Linked DNA regions of Homo sapiens. The protein of the gene in region 1 interacts with the protein of each later gene in a pairwise test. Each region holds a gene or a part of one and is shown on either strand. Other genes may lie near its edges.

Region 1 (7,027 bases):
ATCTTGGCTCACTGCAGCCTCCACCTCCCAGGCTTAAGTGATCCTCCTGCCTCAGCCTCCACAGAAGCTAGGACCACAGGTGCGCACCACCACACCCAGCTAATTTTTTTCATTTTTTGTAGAGTTGAGGTCTCACTGTGTTGCCCAGGCTGGTGTCAAACTCTTGAACACAAGCGAAACTCTCGCCTCAGCTTCCCAAAGTGCTGGGAAGATAGGAGTGAACCACCACACCTAGCCAGGCTTTCTTCTCAGAGACTAGATCCCTCCACCACCTTTGTTACTATAAGAACTAGCACCCCCTAAACATCCAGGCAACATTTATTGAGCCCAGGCCAGGCACTGTGGCTCACACTTGTAATCCCAGCACTTTGGGAGGCCAAGGTGGGTGGATCACTTGAGGTCAGGAGTTCGAGACCAGACTGGCCAACATGGTAAAACCCTGTCTCTACTAAAAATACAAAAATTAGGCCAGGTGCAGTGGCTCATGCCTGTAATCCCAGCACTTGGAGAGGCCAAGGTGAGCGGATCACATGAGGTCAGGAGTTCAAGATCAGCCTGGCCAACATGACGAAACTCCGTCTCTACTAAAAATACAAAAATTAGCTGGGCATGGTCGTGCATGCCTGTAATCCCAGCTACTTGGGAGGCTGAGGCTGGAGAATCGCTTGAACCCAGGAGGCAGAGGTTGCAGTGAGCCGAGATCGCACCATTGCACTCCAGCCTGGGCAACAAGAGCAAAATTCCATCTCAAAAAAAAAAAAAAAAAAAACAATAAAAGAAAATAAAACACATTTATTGAACCCCTGTAGTGTTAGTCATCATACTGGACACCAAACCAAGTAGCCCTAAGAAACACGCAAGATGGGCCCTCTTAGTCCCAATCATATAAATAGCAGCTGACACCAGGCGTCTATATAGGAAGTGCTCAATAAATGATTGCTACATAAATACAGGACTTGGACGGGTGCGGTGGCTCACACCTGTAATCCCAGCACTTTGGGAGGCCAAGGTGGGCAGATCATTTGAGGCCAGGAGTTCAAGACCAGCCTGGCCAACATGGTGAAACCCCGTCTGTACTAAATATACAAAAATTAGCCAGATGTGGTGGCGGGTGCCTGTAGTCCAATCTACTGGGGAGGCTGAGGCAGGAGAATCGCTTGAATCCAGGAGGCGGAGGTTGCCGTGAGCCAAGATACAGCCACTGCACTCCAGCCTGGGTGACAGTGAGACTATGTCTCAAAAATAAATAAATAAACAAATAAATGAATACAGGACTTGGCAAAGCCACTCCATGGCTCTTTTCATCACTTCCTCAAAGCCAGACATTCTCTAGCAACAAGGTCTGGTGAAACTGATGCAAAGCATCAGTCCCCTCTTTAGAAACCAGTCTCCACAAGTCCACTGGCTACGGGGAGGGGTCTTTCCTTAGCAGCACGGCTTGGTGCAGTCAGGTGGGGCACAGGGAAGCCTGGAACATGGCAAGCCCATGCCCAGGACCCTATTAGCTACATGGCCAGGTAACTCACCGTATTAGTTACATGTGGCAATGTCTAGTGGGATCCAGGGAGGCCCAGACACCTCCAACCCACCCTGGGGGCTGGCCTCCTCGGTGTTCCTTGTTGCAAAGGGGGCTGACACTCCAAGCCATGAGGACTGACTGGTAAGTCCCAGGCTGACCTGGTAGGGCCCGCGACAGATTCTCTCAGGGCCAGAGGCCTTTGCTGGGACACCACAGGATTTGTGAGCACTTTTGATTTTGCTGTGAGAACTCACCCAGAACTTGACCAGGAAGAAGGCATGGGGGGGGCCACGATCATATAGCTCTCGGAGGCCACCCTTTTTCTCAGGGAATTTGTCGTAGATCTGCCGGACGTCCACACTCTCGAGCGGCGGCGCTCCGGGGCTGGGGCAGTGCTGGCTGATGTGCACGAACAGGTGCCTCTGGTACTGAGGAGGGTTGGCCGTGGGTGAGAAGTCGGAGGTGAGCTGGATCTCCAGCCTGTGCTGCCTGAGCCCACCAAATGCCGTCACCATCCCCACAGCTCTGGCCAGCTGTTCCACACAGTCCACCCAGCACTGGGCCTGACTGCCACCCATCGTCCCCACTCCTGCTTCTGCACCCAGTCCCCTGCAGCCCTGCAGTCCTACAGTCCCCAACTCCCTGCCACAACTCCCCCAACTCCATCCTCACTGCCTCAGCCTCACCTCAGGCCTCCCACCCTCACCCCAGCCTCCAACCTCGCCTCTCCAGTTCATCCCTCATGTGGCTCCAGACCTGCCCCTGACCCTCCCCTGGTCATGGCCCTCCCATAGCTCCCCAGCAGCCCCAGGGCAAAGCTCACACCCCCTAGGCCTGGTCCTATATAGAACAGGTGCTCATAAATGGTCAATGGATGGAAGAGTGAATGAATGGGAATCCACAGAGGTCTTGTGGTTGATGTTTTGATTGATGTTTATATGGTGTGGCAGAGACTGCTACGTGTTCACAAATCCTGGTTCCTTTACACAGTGTGAAACTACATTTCCCAGGCCGCTTTGCAGTTAGGTGTGACCACATGACTAAGTTCTGGCCAATGGGATGTGACCAGGCCTGAGAGTCGACACATCCAAGTCAGATTCCTAAAACCTCCTGCACAATCTTGACTCTCTCCCTTCCTCCATCTGCTGGCCAGATGCAGAGACTCCATCAGCAGATTCTGAAGCCTTAGAAAATGGCAGAGCCACAAAATGGAAGGAGCCTGGATCCCCAAATCACTTGAGTCCAAGGCTCCTGCTGAACCTACATTGAAATGTTACATGCAACTTATCTGGCATTCAGTCCCTAAGAGTTAGGAGCTGTTTCTTCTAACAGTCGGCCCACTCCATCCTAGCCCAGGAGAAGCTCAAGCACAGAAATAAAATCTTTTCCAAGTTCCTAGTATGCATCACAAAGCCTAGTGAACAGTAGAAACTCAAACACGTTTGATAAATGAATGAATGATGTCCTGGGGAGCTTTTCTGACCTTCCCAACTTGTCACCCTATGACCTTCCAGTTCCTTTATGCTAGTAGTTCTCAAAGTACGGTCCCCAGACCAGCTGCATCAACGCACCTGGTAGCTTATTAGAAATGCAAATTCTCAAGCCCCACATCACATCTAGCAAATCAGAAAGCAATCTCTGTTTTAAGAAGCCCTTCAGATGATTCTGATACATGCTAAAGTTTTAAAACCATGACTTTATACATTCCCTTCCTGTCACCCTCTATATTTCAAAATCCCTCAGCGACTGTACCAAAATTTCACTCACAGAATCAACTGCATCTGGCGGTTCCACGAAGGCTGAGAACTCTACCAGCTGCAACCGGGCGGTGCCCAGGCCCCGAGCCTGCCAGGCTGGGGGCGATGGGGTAGGTGGGGGCAGGGGTGAGAGGGCTTGGGGGGGCTCGTACCCTAGAGAGAGAGAAGAAAGAACAATACAAATTGCTAACATTTATGGAATATATCAGGTACTGTTGTCTCTTGCCTGCCTCCACTTAGAAGCTGAAAAAGCTAAATACTCACTTTCCCAGCCTCCCTTGCAGTTAGAAGTGGCCATGTGACACAGTCCTAGCCAATGAGACGTTAGGGGAAATCTGCTGGGGGGCTTCTGGGAAGGAGTTTCTTCCTGAATGAAAAAGACAGAACTTTGGGAGGAGAAAGCTTTTGGCCCTGGCCAAGTCCTGCTTGGGAGATTGATATGGTTTGGATATTTGTCCCCTCCAAATCTCATGTTGAAATGTGATCCCCAGCTGGGCACGGTGGCTCACACCTGTAATCCCAGCACTTTGGGAGGCCAACGCAGGTGGATCACAAGGTCAGGAGATTGAGACCGTCCTGGCTAACATGGTGAAACCCTGTCTCTACTAAAAATACAAAATATTAGCTGGGCATGGTGGCACGTGCCTGTAATCCCAGCTACTTAGGAGGCTGAGGCAGGAGAATGGCTTGAACCCAGGAGGCGGGGGTTGCAGTGAGCCGAGATTGCGCCACTGCACTCCAGACTGGGGGACAGAGCGAGACTCTGTCTCAAAAAAAAAAAAAAAAGTGTGATCCCCAAGGTTGGAGGTGGGGCCTGATGGGAAGTGCTTGGGTCATGGGGGTGGATCCCTCATGAATGTCTTGGTGCCTTCCCCATAGTAACAAGTGAATTCTCACTCTTTGAGTTGATGTGAGCTGGCTGTTTAAAGGAGCCTGGCTTCGCTCTCTTGCTCCCTCTCACCATGTGACATAGTGGCTCCCCTTCCCCTTCCACCATGGTCCTAAGCTTCCTGAGGCCCTCACCAGAAGCATAGGCTGGCAACATGCTTCCTGTACAGCCTGCAGAACTGTGAACCAAATAAACCTCTTTTCTTTATAAATCACCCAGTTTCAGGCATTCCTTTACAGCAATGCAAATGGACCAACACAGACATGATCCCTGGAGTTGCAACAGCCATCTTGGGACAATAAGACAGACATGAGAGGAACTACAGAGATTCCAGTCCTGATATTGCTAAGCCCACACGGGAACAGCCCACCTCCAGGCTTTTTGTTGCATGGATTCATAACATGAATGCTTTTACTATTTAAGGCACTTTTAATGTGGGTCTTCTGTTACTTGCAGCCAAAAGTATTCCTAATTGATAAATCTATGGAAACTAAGGGACTCCCTCTTTCACTGATGTGAGTTCTCAGGGCCATATCAGCATGGACTTCCAGAAGCCATCTTTGCTGCCAAGTAGCTGAGTCTGCCTGGGAATGAAGCCACCACAGTGGAAAGCAGATCAAAGTAATGACTGATGCCATCACTTGAGCCGCTGGATCCAGCCACGCCTGAGGCCATAATTCTGAACTGTCAGTTACTGGAACCAATAAATCAATACATTTTTCTTATTATTTTTTATTTTATTTATTTATTTATTTTGAGACAGAGTCTTGCTCTGTCGCCCAGTCTGGAGTGCAACGGTGCCACCTCGGCTCACTGCAACCTCTGCCTCCCAGGTTCAAGTGATTCTCCTGCCTCAGCCTCCCGAGTAGCTGGGATTACAGGCAAGTGCTACTGCTACCACGCCTGGCTAATTTTTGTATTTTTTAGTAGAGGTTGGGGGGGGTGGTTTCGCCATGTTGGCCAGGTTGGTCTCGAACTCCTGACCTCAGGTGATCCACCCGCCTAGGCCTCCCAAAGTGCTGGGATTACAGCTGTGAGCCACCGCACCTGCCTCTTCTTTTTTAAAATGTTGCTTCAGCTGGCTTGATTTGGATTTCTATCACTTGCAGCTGAAAGAATCTTGACTAACATACCTCCCCCATGTCTCATAAGCTAGCAAGTGGCAGAACACAAACCCAGTGTGTGGCTGCAAAGACCAAAATCTCCTAACCATCACCAGTTCCACCACTCAGCTCTCCAGCCCCTCCCGGCTCCCCCGCCCCCAACACACACACCCTGCCTCAAAGCTGGGCTTCAGTAAGAATGTATCCCCTAATTGGCCGGGTGCGGTGGCTCACACCTGTAATCCCAGCACTTTGGAAAGCCGAGGCAGGCGGATCACAATATCAAAAGATCGAGACCATCCTGGTCAACATGGTGAAACCCGATCTCTACTAAAAATACAAAAATTAGCCCGGCATGGTGGCGGGCACCTGTAATCCCAGCCACTCGGGAGGCTGAGGCAGGAGAATCACTTGAACCCAGGAGGCGGAGGTTGCAGTGAGCCGAGATCACGCCACTGCACTCCAGCCTGGCGACAGAGGGAGACTCCATCTCAAAACAAAACAAAATAAAACAAAAAAAACAATGTATCCCTCAATTGATGGAAGGTTGAAGGAAAGGCAGTAGGGGTCGAAGAGAGAGAGGGGAGACAAGGGAGGGTGGAGCGCAGGCTCTTACCTGGGAGGTCAGTAGATGGGGGAGTCAGTGACAAGGTGAACGGTGTCTGTGAGAATGGCTTCACACTGAGGGAAAAAGGAAGCCAGGGGTTAGCCAGGTAGAAAGATGCTAATGTCACCAGCAAATGTTTACTGAGAGGCCACAACAAGCAAGACCCTGTGCATTTTGTGCACAATCTCACTGAAGCCTCACAGTGCGTGAGGTAGGTAGAATGACTGCTCTTTTCATTGCACAAATGAGGACAACTGAGGTATAGAGGGGTCAACTGACCTGCCCAAAGTCACACAGTTGAGATGCAGCAGAGCTGGGACTTGAACCCAGGTCAGTCTCAGCCCGGTATCTCAGGCTCTTGATGATGACATTTTGGTATCTCTCACAAAATGTCAGAAAGAGAAGAGAAACCAGCCTGGCGTGGTGGCTCACACCTGTAATCCCAGCACTTCAGGAGGTTGAGGCGGGCAGATCACTTGAGGTCAGGAGTTCGAGACCAGCCTGGCCAACATGGTGAAATCCCATCTCTACTAAAAATACAAAAATTAGCAGAGTGTGGTGGTGCGCGCCTGTAATCCGAGCTATTCAGGGGGCTGGGCCAGGAGAACTGCTTGAACCCGGGAGGCAGATGTTGCAGTGAGCCGAGATTACGCCATTATACTCCTGGGTGACAGAGCAAGACTCCATTTCAAAAAAAAAATAAAAAGAAAGAGGAGAGAAGAGAAACCAAGTCTTGGAAGGCAGGGAGAAGACGCAGAAGACAAGGAATTTGGAGGAAGAAGAGGCTGAGGGGTTGGGAGGGTGGGAAGAAAATGACCAACACTCAGGAGATGGGACAGGAGGCCAAAGTCGGGGTGGGGAGGCAGCACTGGCCAATAGAACTTTCCAGGGATGGAAATGTTCTATTGGATGGAAATCTGTGCCATCCAATACGGTACCCAGTGCCCACATGTGGCTACTGACCACAGACCACGTGGCCACTGAGCACAAGTGTGGCTCATGGACCTGAGAAACAGAATCTTTAATTTTATTTAATTTTAATTTAAATAGCTGCATGAGGCTAGTGGCTACAGTATCAGTCACAGCCCTAGTAGCCCAAGAGATAGTGGTGAAGAGACTTAGATGTCAGAGGTCAGACCAGGCGCAGTCGCT
Region 2 (7,027 bases), on another chromosome or scaffold:
ACCCCATCAGACACGGACACCAGGCAGTGCCACTTGGAGGGAAGCCCCGGTGAGGCCACAGGGACACAGAGGCTCTTGCAGCTGAATGCACAGAGCCCGGAGGCACCCCCTCGGGGCACGGCACCATCCTCTCTGTCAGTCTTAGCAAATGCTGACTACTGACTAAGGACCTATTAGGTCGCAGTCCCTGGAGATTCGGAGAGCTCAAGCAGTAATTTTGAGCCTCCTCAATGCTGCTGCCTTCTCCCATATATTTCCCCAGGAACCCCATTTTTAAAAAGATTTGTTTCTACCAAGCAAGCTGTGTTTATTAAGCAATCATTTAATTTCCTATTTTCCTTTCATAGAAAAAAATCCCTATGTACCAATCATAGGCTTCTGACCAGCATGGGCTCACAACCCTGTGACCATCAACTGTGCAGGACCCCAGCCCAAGGCAAAGCAACCTGACATTTCCCTTCATCCGCGTGACCGTCTAAAGGAGAAACGTAGGACCCCCCCACCCGAGGATGACTACATTCATCCTAAGAGAATCAGGCCTGCCACAGAAGACTGCTGGAGGAAACACCTCAGTACACCACCCCTGTACTGGGAGAGGAAAGAGATGAAGCCCCAGTGACATTCACCTTGCCCAAGGCCGTGAGTGCTAAGAGGCAAGGCCCGGGCAGGTCTGGGCAGGAAGTAAAAGCAGAAGAGGACTCCTGTTCTGCTGTCCCTTGTCCCAAGTGCACAACAGAGGCGAAGGGTGGCATCCCTCACCACCTCCCTCCCTCACCACCTCCCTCCCTCACCACCGCCCTCGGAGTCCTCTGCTCGGGGCTCTCCATCCAGCCCAGTCCCCCAGCCCCTGGACTCCCCACGCCACCCTCCCAGACAGAGGCCCACCTGCTGCCGCTCCCCCGGGGTCAGTGTGGGCGAGAGGCCGGCTGGCCTGCTGGCGTCCAGGCTGTTCTTGGTCAGTGCGAGGGGCTGCTCCAGGCCAAGGCTGGGGAGGGAGGTGTACAGGTGGCTGCCGTGCAGGCTCATGGTGGGGGCCACAGCGCGCTCGATGGGGCTGCGGCTCCGCTCCCGGGGGTCTCTGCGGCAGTCTCCATTGGCAGTCTTGTTCCTGAAAAAGAGGAATGGGCATTCAGGGGGCGTTTTCTCAAAGGCAAAGGGGACAGTGACTGTGCGCCAGGCACTCCGTGTTGCTTATTTAATTTTTTACCCTGAAGCTCAGGTCGTGTGGCTGGGCAGCACGATGAGGAGCCGGTTGCCAGCCCGGGTCAGCCGGACACCAAAGCCTCTGGGTGCCGGAGAAGCTGCTGCCAGCGGAGTCCAAAGTCAGCTCCATAGAAGATGGAGCCCCCGACTCAGTGGCGTCCTCTGCCTGACTCTGTGTTCACTTCTATAATAATCTCCACTCCCTGGGAGCCTGGGGAGCTGGAGGCCAAGCTGGTTCGATAAGGACCTGCCATTTGGACAGGACGGGGACGCTGACAACGATCCAGAGTCACTGGCTGCGTCCTACATGCAGGGCCCTATTCAAAGCCTCCACAGCACTGCTCAGCCCATCTTCCTCACAGTACTGCTCAGCCCGTCTTCCTAACAGCACTAAGCAGGCAATGCTGCCACCATCCCCTTTCCAGACCAGAACCCCAAGACTCAAGAGTGGTGGAATAATCAGCTCAGACTCCCAGCTGACATGTGGTGGCACGTGCTCTGGGGTTCCCGGGGTGCTGTAGGGAGCCGGCGCGCAGCTCTCTCGTCCAGGACACACGAGCAGGAGTGACCTGCGTCCAGAAGGTCCATCACTAGCCCTGGCCATGTGCTGAGCACCCAGGCGATGCCACGTGGAATCCAGGTGAGACAGTCAGCACCACCTCCATCTGATGTGTTAGTCTGAAGGCAGCGTTACGTGTTGCATCTATTAGACACCAACCCCACACAGGTAAGCCATGGCCAGCCCTGGTCCACCCTCCCTGCTTTATTCCAGGGGTCCCACAGTTCCATCTGCCTTGGGTCTTGCCCCTTCAATCCACCATATTATCCGCTGACAGAGTAACCTTTTTCCGTAACTCATGAGCTGGTCATTTAAAGAAAAAGGTGGTGAATTATGATTTGAGTGAATTTTAAGAAATACAAATTATTTTCAGAGTCTACAAGTAGTCACCTGTCTTAACTAGCAGAAAAGCCTAGGCCTGCCCTGGTGAAGCAGCAGCCACAGCCCCCGTCCCGGACTGGCTGAATATGTTACACACACAATGAATGTTACACACACAATGTTACGCATGCACACAGAATGTTACACACACACTGAATGTTACACACACGCACACCACACACACACACGCATGTGATAGGCGTACCTTTCTAAAACTGTAGATTAACTTCAGTTGTAAGAAACAACACACGGCCATCCCATGCACCCTTTACCTTGACTCCCGCGATGGTGACATCTTGTAAAACTACAGTACAATATCACAACCAGGATATCGACAATGAGACAACTACCAACCTTATTCAGATTTCGTGTTTTGCTTGTATCCATTCCAGAGCAATCTCTTTATAAGGCAAATCCAACCACATCCAGCCCTTAGTGAATGTTTTTAGCAGCTCAGCACGGGCCTTGGTAGCCTCTGGGCCTGACCACCTTCCCGTCCTCATCTCTGGCTTCACGCCTCCAAATGTTGTGTTCCGTAGTTCCAACCATCTACTTGCCATTCCTCAAATAAGATGCGGCCACTCTCTGCCTCTGTGGCTGTGTACACGCGGTGCCGCTCTAGCCTCCCTCCTCCCCGTCCTGCGCTGCCAACCACAGCTGCAGTGTAGAATCCCAAGGCGCCCCGTGCAAACCTTTAATACAGAATCCATCCCCCACCGTCAATGATCTCTTCGTCTACGCACCCGCCCCTCCTCACACACGGCAGCCTCTGAGGGCGTCGAGTCCCTCCTGTCTCATTACGCTTGCTACCAGGGGTGCACAGAGACTTAACGGGTGAATGAAGAGAAGCAGCATATGGGTGACCGTGTAAGAAAGGCAGGTATCGTGGAGTGGAACTGTGGGTGGGCAGAATCATGGAGAGCTGGAGGGCTGAGGAGTCAACTGGAGGCGCATTCAAGCCTTTAGATGGACCCTGCGGCCCAGTCGGTGAGCTGCTAAGGGCTGAGCAGGAGAAGCACCAGAGGGGGCCTGAGTGCAGCCTCGGCTGTGATGTTGTGATGTCATTCTGCGCCATCTCCAGCAGGGGCACGCGCTCAGCTTAGTGACCCGAGGCGTTCCGAGCCTCGGCGTCCCCATGTAACCATGTGGTCACAGTAAGATCCACCCAGAGGACTCTAAATGGGGGACAAACAGCACACAAACAAAAACAATCAGAGCGGCGCAGTGCAGCCCTCAGTGAGCGCCAAGAGAACCCTGTCAGCCCTAAACCGAGTATATTGATTATAGGGTGATTAGCTGTACAGGACCCAGTATTCGTTTATGGGGTTTTTTTCTTCCCCTTTATTTTCTGGCTGATGATACAGAATATCTTAAAAGCAATTAAGGATTAAATGTTCAGCCCATTAAGACAATCATGGAAGAGAATGTTCTGGCAGAGTCTAGATAGTAGGTTCCATCCACGCCACACACATCCTGGCGATTTTCAAAACGTTAAAATACTAAAAACCTTAATACTGAAACCAGCCTGTCCATAATGTCATCTGTCTGTGGCGATTCAGAAGACAGCACAGGTTTCTGCAATGAATGCCTCAAGGGTTATGATCCCAGACACCGATGTCACCAGAAGACCTTCCGCGGAACGGACGTCAGGCCAAGCAGTCCTGAGATCTGCTGGCTTCTACCTAAACGGGACTTGGTTCCTGAATACTCAGTTCATCAGTGTCACCACACATCCTCATCTTCAGTGTCCCGCTCCCTTCTAAATTCAGATAAAGATACAATTTTATTGTTAACAACATGAGTGAATGGCTTCTCTCCACCCCAGGTGATGCTTCCACGGGCCACTTCATGAAGTGCATAGACCTGGGGGCTCATGTCCCAGATTCAGGAGAGCCTCAGACACAGTCTGCCTCCGAATTTAGACGTCTGTTTACTCAACCAGCGCTAGTTAAGTCCCTGTTCTGTGGAGGTTCCAGAACTGCAGGGTTACAGCCCTGCCTTCTCATGGGCTTACAATCTAGCAGGGACAGAAAGGCCCGGGAGGGGCTGCAGCTCCCAAGTGACAGCTCTGGATCCGGGCAAGGATAAAGACACCCCCGGGTGGCATGGAGGAGCAGACTAAAGGTCAGGCGTCTGCCCATGTCCAAAGCCAAAGTCGTGGTACATAAGGCACTGCCCACCCCTCGCACCTTATGTCCTAGGGGCACGGCACAGTCACGCAGATGACTCAGCTGCGCCTTAGGAAATCCAAGCATGACTATGAGACCACATCACAGAGGAAAGGGGTGCCAGGGCCGCCAGCTGCCAGGGCAGAGGTAAGGACGGGGCAGCCCTGCACCTAAATCTGCCATCTATGCTCCCACAGCCCCACTGTGCGCCCACCCTACGCAGGGCAGCAGGGAGAAGGGGACTTCCAGGCCCACTAACTGGAAAGACAGTCCGTGGAACACAGCACAGTGGGCACTATGGGTCAGACAAAGACACTGAAAACAGCGAGAAAAGGCCTGGAGAACTGGCTGGTTAATTTTAGTAAAATTATACATTACTCACATTTCCAGCTCATTTTCCTGGTTCCCGGAGCTTCAAGACAGACATTGTTTTCCAGGCCCCGCTCGCCCGGATGAATCACCTCCCGGCCACTGCTTCCCAGGCGTCATGTGCTCCCGGGGACGGCAGAAAACCGCACGCATCCTGCCCGGGAGATGGAAGTCGCCTCCGCTCCTGGTCAGGACTGTGCCCGAGAGAGCCCACGGCATCCCCGCGAACACCCAAAGGACTCTGAGTGGCTCCGTGCCAGGCCTATCAGAGCCGCTGAGGCTGCACGGCACCCGGCCCCGCCCCGGGCCTCATCCCCATCCTAGGCGGGCACTTCCACTGCCAGCTGCCCACGGAGAGAAAGATGGAAAGAGGAGGGAGGGAAAGAGAGGCCTACAACACCATCATCCAGGACAGAGCTTTCTGAGTACTGAAAGCCACACGCTCTCTAAGCTAAGAAACCAAGAATGTCCATAACATCTGGGGAAAAGTAAACCAGATTCCAAGCAGTGACATTGAAAGAATCCATCACGTGAAAGAAGTGCACTGCGTCTATTTGATACTCATTAAAATGAGTTTCCCACCCTCCAACAAACGTGCTTTGGGATGCTTAGCCCTTAGCCCCATCACCTGACGTTCTGAGCCTGCGCTGGGCTTCATTCACCGTGGACTGCCACAAGCTACACTGATCTGAGTCTGAGTTCCTCTGCCTGGGGAGGGGGTATGGGTACAAGACATTTTGAGGATACATTCTGGGGTCCCCAAAGGCCCCTGAGCACCATGGCATGGCAGGTGCTCCCACCCAGTGAAAGAGATGAGGCCCAGGGCAGCCTTGGGCCCTGGCCTCCCAAAAACCAACATCCTGAGGCGGCAAAGCAGCCCGTCCCCATGCCAGGCGTTGCCTGGCAGGAGTAGAATGAAGGCTATGCAGAGACATCCCCCAAGCACCAGAGTCCAGGTGGAGACAAGAGATTCAAAGGAGGAGGGGCCGGCACAGGGCCAGTGAGTGGGCCGGGACACAGCCCCATCTCCAGCCCTTTCGTCCTCTCTCTCCCACCGCAGCAGTTACAGGAGAATCCGACATCTGAGAACTGGCAGGACAGCCAGTCGTTCACACAGTCTTAACACATCATAATGAGACTGCTGGCTGGGCATGGTGACGTGCACCTGTGGTCCCAGCTACTTGGAGGCTGAAGTGGGAGGATCACCTGGGCCCAGGAGGTGGAGGCTACAGTGAGCCATGGTCACGCCACTGCACTTTAGCCTGGGTGACAGAGCAAGACCCTGTCTTTAAATAAATAAGATTGCTAGCACATCTTTAATCTTAAAAAGCTTCCTCAGAAAACAGACTTAATGCCACTGAAGGGTGCCCTGAAACCTGGTTAAAGTGGTCAGCTGTATGCTCTGCTAATTTACTACAGCTTTTTAAATAATAAAATTTTACCTGAATAATATAGACAGAACTTCCTCCCAACCTTTACCTGCTGCCCCCTGGGGTTTCTGATGTGCACAGGGCAGGTCAGCACCATCCCAGTTTTACAGAAGAGATGACCAAGGTGGAGAAGATGAAGGCTTTGCCTAGACATGCTGCCCACCACAGACACCGGCCCTGTGGCATCAGCCGCTCAGGGTCGTCACACCAGGCCCACCAAGAGACTCTCCATCACCTCGCAGCTCCATCCCAAGCTGCCAGGAGGCCTTTCCGACCCACCAGCACCATTTCCACCCACCTTCCTGCCCCAACTGCAGAGACACAGGAAAGGAGCAGTGCGGAGATGCCGGCCACCAAGGTCTGTCCCCGGACAGTCCTGCCACGCTGGCTTTCTCAGTCAGTAAGCTTCTGAAGCACAGCTCCCAGGGGACCCCGGTCCCTGGCTGGACCGTGCACTCCCGGGAAGGCTGACACTGCAGCCCCCACGCCCTAATCTCCTTGGCTCCGCACGGGTGACCACATACCAGATGTTCTAATAACTGTCCATAGAGTAAATAAATCATTAAGGTACACATAGTATGTGTGAGTCCAGTTAACAGCGTTTGTGGCAAATGACAAGGGAGTTAAGGAGATTTCAGAGAAAATGACTGGTGGCAAAGACTTTTTTCTGAAAAAGCAAAATTTAAGGAACATTTAAATGTTGGGCATAAACAGTGGTGAGATGTCTTCTCCCTTTTAGTCCCTTCCTCCAACTTCTGTTGTCCTCCTCACCTCCTCCCTGCTTCTAAATGTCCCCGAGCTCATCCAAAGCACCCCACAACACACACACAGGAGTGAACTCATCACCGTGGCTTCTCTCCCCTTGTGAGTGGGAGAATTCACTGCTTCCCAGTGAGCAACAAGGTGCCTGGGTGTGT
Region 3 (7,027 bases), on another chromosome or scaffold:
CCAGGCTAGAGTGCAGTGGCGCGATCTCGGCTCACTGCAACTTCCGCCTCCCGGGTTCACGCCATTCTTCTGCCTCAGCCTCCTGAGTAGTTGGGACTACAGCCGCCACCACGCCAGGCTAATTTTTTATATTTTTAGTAGAGACAGAGTTTCACCGTGTTAGCCAGGATGGTCGCGATCTCCTGACCTCATGATCCGCCCGCCTCGGCCTCCCAACGTGCTGGGATTACAGGCGTGAGCCACCGCGCCGGCCTATTATTATTTTTTAAAACAAGCATTAAAACATGCTTCAGTGCTCTTTCATATGCAAAGAAGCAACCCTGGGAGCCTGCGCCTTTTCCAGGCCCTCATGCCTTCAGAAGCCAGAGTGTGCTAGGAGCACCGGGGGTGAGGACATAGCTTCAGCCTGAAGCTGTTCACTGGAGGTATCTTCCTAGTGTGTGCAGTGGGCCTTACTCAGTTTCCCAACCCTCCATCTCAGAGAAAGACAAAACCAATTGGATATGGTGTATGTACTTGTCAAACTGTTTATTTGCCATTCACACTGATTGTAACACTGGATTTACAGAAGAAACTGTGGTACAAAGAGAGGAAGGCTCTGGTGGCTCCTGAACAGCAGCAGTCCAGCTGCCCTGCTCAGGCTGGGCACGACGAATGCTCCCAGGAGAGGGGAGGCGGCCCACCCGACTGTGTACCGTGGACTGTGGACAGTGCAGTGCCTGCTCTCCTGTGCTATCTAGAAACACCTTGGAGAGAGGGTTCTGGGATATTCTCTCATGTCATCTGGCTGAAGACACCAGCTTGACAGTTCCCCTTTAAGAAGCATTCCATACGTTTGTACCAGGGAGAAAGAAGCCCACGCACGAATTTTCAGGATGTTTTGTGACCAAACCCAATAACTGCCACACAAATAGACCCTAGGTGGGGGCTGGCTTAAATAGGACCACATTTCCCGTTGCTTTTTCAGTAGATGTGTTATACCGTCATTTCAATTTGAAAGTTTATTTTTTTCCATTGATTTTTATACATCCAGAATAACACAAATAACCAACAGTTCTTTTTCTTTTTTTGCACATTCATTTCCCCTAGAACAAAAAAAGTGAACTTAAAAAAAATTGGAACCATGCTATTAGCTGTTTACAAAAGTGAATAAGAAGTAGCTCATTTTAAAGTCTAAAATAAACAAAGTAGAAAGAAGCATTTTTTTCCCTACAGTATTTAGCAAACCTAAGAAAAAGTCCTTAGAAACACACACAAAAAAATTGAAAAAAAGTTATAGGCATTAACAATATTTTATAATGAAGCTTAAAATCTATTTACATACATAAATACAATTAACTTTGTTGATGCAACTCTTCTGGAAGGAAAAAAAGAGCCAAATGATCAGCCTCATCAATACTGACCTGGCTAAAAACAAAATTCCCAACAAACACACAAAAATCCCAAAACAAATGTATACGCTACGGTAAACAAAAAGGCATTTTGTTCAGATGTAAAATATGTTTTGTGAGATTATTGTCAAACAAATTTTCATGTATAAAAGACCCAAACATGTCATTCCCCCCAAAAATAAAAACCAACAAAAATAAAAATCATCAGGACGGAATGTCCCAAAGAAACAGGTATTTCAAGGCAGAAATCTGCAATCCTAAATTGCAGGACATTTGAGTGGAACCATTCATTTCCTTTCTAATCAGAGCATTTCTGTTTATCTGCACAGAAACCCAAGGCAGCAGAAAGGCTGTCTATTTACTCACTGATTGTGATTTGCCCAGGAAAGTTTGCTGGTTTGGACAGCAAGCAGATCCAATATGGTTGGCAATGTCTCTGTTCTGCTGGAAGAAACCCATAAACAGGAGAAAGGCTGACAAACCATGTTCCTTTATGTGAAGGGGGAAGAACTGGACCTTCTTGTGTTCTGAAATTTGGTACTGGGTGGGGGTATGTGCTATCTGCTTAAGAGAACACAGGAAAAGGAGGAGGGAGAAAGTGGGGTTTGGAAGATAGAGGAAGAGAGAAAAAAAGGGAGATATTGGGGGGAAGAGAGGGAGGGAAATGTATTTTCAGATAGTGAGAAAAAGAAAGAACTGAAATATGTATCCATGTTGAAATCATAAATAGGGACATGAGTAAGCAGTAGAAATGGCTTATTCAATACTTCTCCTGGACCAGACACATGCAGTTATTACATGATTGGCTTAAGGGTCTCATTGATACCTTAACTTTCCTGAGGGCAATGAATAAAAAGATACCTTAATCTACCTGAAGTCAATGAATGCAATTTTTCACACACACACACACACACGCACACACACACACATACAAAAATGTGTTGCGTGAGACCTATCGCCAAAACAACTACAGTTTGATTTTTTTTGAAACAATTAAATACTATATATGCTGGTAAGAGTCTGTGAAACTCTAAATGACCAATCCAGTGAGCCTACAATAGTGACAAGCCCCCTCCACACATGGCTTTGAGAGTAAAGGTTCAATGTAAAAGATTATCTAATCAGAGCATGAGGCTGGTTTTGAGTTGGAATATCTTCAGTTAACAGAATTAAACTGAAAAACATAATTTTTTCCTTCATTTTTCTCCAGCATTTTTGCAGGTCAGACATGGTAACATGTGCTGAAAAAAAACATTTACGTTTAATTTGGGGGAAATGGGCTAATGGTGCTTTTCAGAAATTAAATTTTTACATTTGCTGACATTTTATGGTAATTTAGCTGCAAAAATGTAATACGGAATAATATATGAAACTGAGTTGTGGAGGGAATCCTGTCAAAAATGAAAGTGAATATATTCTGAGTTTGTCCGAGATCTGCTATAGCTCTTCTCTAGATAAGAACGACCTGACAACATAAGCTGCTTTACTCTTTAACTCTTACCAAAGTGCTACTGCATGTGTGTAAAACAAATAATCAATATATATATAAGAAAACTCAAAAACAAGTTGTTTTAAATAAGTCCAGCTGTTTTTGCTGCCTGCAGCCAAAGATTTGCCTAATTTGAATGCTTAAATTTATAAAATAAAAATCAAACACTGTTCTGAAGTCCTGCTTTCAAATACTCTTCAGAGTTGACCTGAAATCGTTTCAACGAATTTTAAGAGGTACGTTAAATAACCACCAGATCATTTGGAGCACACATGTGTCAAAATCAGCAGTTAGTATTTATGAGTTGTACAACAACTGCATTCTGACCAAATCCTCCAATAAAAATAGTGCCATAAAATTTACAGCGACATTGGATACCTTTGAATTGTAGCCACGGACAGTAGTGACATGAATCTTTCCTGTCACACTGGTGCACAGGTAAAAGCCCATATACCCCATAGGGTAGGGTCTCAGCCTGGTGAAAGCAACACAAAGATGTTGTTGAGTGAGCAGCACAGGACAGGGGGTCTCGCACAGGTGGGACCATGTTTTCCCACTTGTCTCCACTGAGGCACACAGAGGCAAATTGACTCCTCGAGGCCTGCTTCTGGTGGGCCCTTAAATTGCTATAATCGTAACCCCTAAATTCATTGATTTGGTTCCTATGTAAATGTGGCTCCCCTACACAGTTTACTTTGGCTGTGTTCTGTTACACAGCATCTGTGAAATTATCAGATGACCTTGGGGTGAGCAAATCCCTGGGCAGAAATCAAATCCTCTCCAAAGATGTAATTATTGGCACCTGCCTCAACCCTCTGGAACTAGATTGACCTTCTCTGTTTTAAGGAGGAAGTTAGATATGAGACCCTTGTTGAGCCTGGCAGAAAATTCCATACTTCTGATCCTTGGAGTGACCCTCAGTGTCTAAAAATCCTATTAAAAACGTTGCTGCGTGAGCTACTCACTTGTTTGATTAACATGAAAGGGAGTTTAATGTAAACAATACTTCTGGATAACCAAGCGATCACATTACTCATTCTTTTTTTCTAGCCTTCTTCAATGTGATACATTTAACTTTGGCTACTATCAAGAACAAAAGAAAATGTAGTACTTGATATTTTTCTTAATATAAGTACATTTAAATAATTAAAAAATTATCAACACATAAATGTCTGAACATCAAGATACATAAATATCTGGGGATTCCTTGTGGGAATACAGTAGTTAAAAATGACCCAAAGCTGTAGCTGTTTCTCAAAAAAACAAAACAAAACAAAAAAAAACAACTACCCAAAAGTCCAAAAGAAAAGTTAAATAAAACTTAAAGAAAAGGGAATCATATTTCTTTCCATGGTCAAAGCAAGAAAGAAGCAAGCTCAATTTATATATATTTATATAAACGTATATAAAAATAAAAACCACCCAAATGCAAATACGCATTTTGCAATTGATAAGGTGCGGAAAAATTAAAAATAAGAATTAGATGCCAAACAGGGCGAGTTGCATCCCTCCTCTCCCCCCACCCCAACCAAAATTCCACACTCTTTGGAATAAACAACTTGGTTAAAAAGTTAAGTCAAGGGTATAAAATCTTTCTTTTTATTCACAGCATTGCTAAATCAGAAGCATTCACAGTTTCCCTCCGGGAATCTTCCTGTTTGCTTTCCAGCGCGTCCCCTGGGTGCTGGGGCCGGCGGACACCCTCGAGGTGCGTCGCCTCGGACACCTCCGCGAGGGCCGGGGCGCCAGCAGACGGCGGCGGCGTGGGCTTCTGGGCGCAGGAGGCTGCGCGGGCCTGACCTACAGCGAGATCCTGGCCGTCGGGCGCCCTCGGCCCCAGGACGGTGGCCGGGCCCAGGGCCCGGGATCCCGGCGGGCTTGTCGCGAACAGGAGGCCCGCGCGCCCGGAGGCGAAGGCGGCGGCCCGCGGGGCCCAGCCGGGCCAGGCCTGGCGCCTCAGTAGGGCCTCCACACGGCCTCCTCCAGGCGCGCGGAGGGCGCCATGTTGGTGGGGGAGTTGCTGTGGCTGCCCTCGGCCTCCACCACGTCGCTCTGGTTCGGGAGGCTGGGGTTGAGCAGCGCGGAGCCGGTGGAGGCGTTGGTGCAGGGCGGCAGGATGCGCGGCGGCGAGCGCTCGCCGCCCACCATGGAGAACTGGTAGGAGCCGGCCGAGGCGCCGTAGTACAGGTGGTAGGAGGGCGAGCTGGCTTGGAACGGGCCTCCCTGCGCTTGCGACGAGCCGGGGTAGGGCGGCGGCAGGTAGGTGTGGTAGCGCGTGGCCGAGCCCATGGCCGACATGCCGATGCCGATGCCCGAGGTGACCGGCGTCGGGGAGTAGGTGAAGGCGCCTGGATAGTGCATGCGGGGGTCGGAGATGGAGGGCAGCGCGGGGAACTGGCGCGGGTCGCTGAACGCTGTCAGGTCGGGTGCCGCTGCAGGGCGGGCAAGAGAACGGAGCGGAAGTGAGTAGGAGGTTGCGGAGGCCACAGCTCTTCCCTCTGCCCCAGGGGGCTACCCAGGATGATACCGCCTAGGAGGATGGGAAGCCACCCAGGATGCTACTGCTGGGGAGGACGGGGACCACCCGGGATGCTACTCCCAAGAGGACGAGGATTACCCAGGATGCTATACCCAGGGGGACAGGGACCACCCAGGATGCCACCTCCTGAGATGACGAGGATCACCCAGCATGTCACCTCCCAAGAGGATGGGGACTACCCATGATGCTATGCCCAGGAGGTCGGGGACCACTCAGGATGCCACCTCCTGAGAGGACGGAGACCACCCAGGATGACACCACCTGGGAGGATGGAGACCACCCAGGATGCTACCGCCTAGGAGGACGGGGGACACCCAGGATGCTACTGTCCAGGGAGATGGGTTTCTATCAGAATTTACCGCCCAGGAAGATTGGAACCACACAGGATTGCTACCACCTGGGAGGATGGGGGCTACTGAGGATGCTGCTGCCTAGGGAGAGGGTTTCTACCCAGAATCTGCCACCCAAAAAGATGAGGTCACCCAGGATGCTATGCCCAGGAGGACGGGGATCAGGAGGCTGCTACTGCCCAGGAGGATGGTATAATATACAGTAATATAATACGGTAATATAGAATATCATGTAATGTAATATGACATGATATATGAAATGATGTAGTATAGCATAATATGTATAGTATAGATATAATGTGCAATAGTATATACTATAATATGTATAACGTATATAAAATGTTGATATAATCCTAGGGTTGGCAAACTGCAGCCTGCCAGCCAAATCTGGCATTTTTGCATGTCCCAGGAGGTAAGAATGCATTTTACATTTTTTAAATGGTTGAAAAAAAAATCCAAAAAAGAATACTTCCTGACCTGTTAAAATGACAGGAAATTCAAACTTCAGTGTCCATCCATACTTCGGAACACATCCTCACTCATTCTTTCATGTACTGCCTGTGGTTGCTTTAGAGCCACTACTGTAAAGTCAGGTGGTCAGTATAGGGACTGCAGGAGCCACAGAGCAAATATTTATTCTTTTTTTTTTTTTTGGAGACAAAGTCTCGCTCTGTCACCAAGGCTGGAGTGCAGTGGTGTGATCTCGGCTCACTGCACCCACCACCTCCTGGGCTCAAGCAATTCTACTGCCTCAGCCTCCCGAGTAGCTGGGATTACAGGCGCCCGCCACCAGGCCTGGCCAATTTTTGTATTTTTAGTGGAGATGAGATTTCACCACGTTGGCTAGGCAGGTCTCGAATTCCTGACCTCAAGTGATCCACCTGCCTCAGCCTCCCAAAGTGCTGGGATTACAGGCATGAACCACCGTGCCCAGCCCTAAAATATTTATTCTCTGGCCCCTTACAGAAAAAAGTTTGCTGACCCTCTATTTGATCAATATATTAATATACCAATAATATAAATTAATCTGTGATATTAATATAGCAGATGATAATTTGACACTAATGTAAAGGATGCACAAATATGTTACTACTAACACAATATGTTATACATAATATATATCCTAACAATATTAATATATAATAATACATTACACATAGTATTTAGGTTGAATGATAGAAAATTGCCATTTTTATAGGCCTTCGACAGTTGAAAAATTGATAATTTCCTAGTATTTAAGCGAATGCATGGCTCAGTA

Evidence for each region.
Region 2: the proteins of TEAD2 (region 1) and VGLL4 interact in binary tests that used the Homo sapiens proteins (3 or more experiments, as listed by UniProt).
Region 3: the proteins of TEAD2 (region 1) and RUNX1 interact in binary tests that used the Homo sapiens proteins (3 or more experiments, as listed by UniProt).

What each region holds. Positions count from the first base shown.
Region 1 is NC_000019.10:49,345,417-49,352,443, forward strand, and holds part of TEAD2 (transcriptional enhancer factor TEF-4), read right to left. Parts: intron 5,950-7,027; coding exon 5,885-5,949; intron 3,644-5,884; coding exon of another isoform or gene 3,541-3,643; intron 3,430-3,540; coding exon 3,287-3,429; intron 1,948-3,286; coding exon 1,774-1,947; intron 1-1,773. UniProt on the Homo sapiens protein: Transcription factor which plays a key role in the Hippo signaling pathway, a pathway involved in organ size control and tumor suppression by restricting proliferation and promoting apoptosis.
Region 2 is NC_000003.12:11,563,912-11,570,938, forward strand, and holds part of VGLL4 (transcription cofactor vestigial-like protein 4), read right to left. Parts: intron 4,888-7,027; exon of another isoform or gene 4,696-4,887; coding exon of another isoform or gene 4,694-4,695; intron 1,931-4,693; exon of another isoform or gene 1,109-1,930; coding exon 886-1,108; exon of another isoform or gene 375-885; coding exon of another isoform or gene 348-374; intron 1-347. UniProt on the Homo sapiens protein: May act as a specific coactivator for the mammalian TEFs.
Region 3 is NC_000021.9:34,787,299-34,794,325, forward strand, and holds the end of RUNX1 (runt-related transcription factor 1), read right to left. Parts: intron 5,313-7,027; coding exon 4,837-5,312; 3' UTR 503-4,836; downstream 1-502.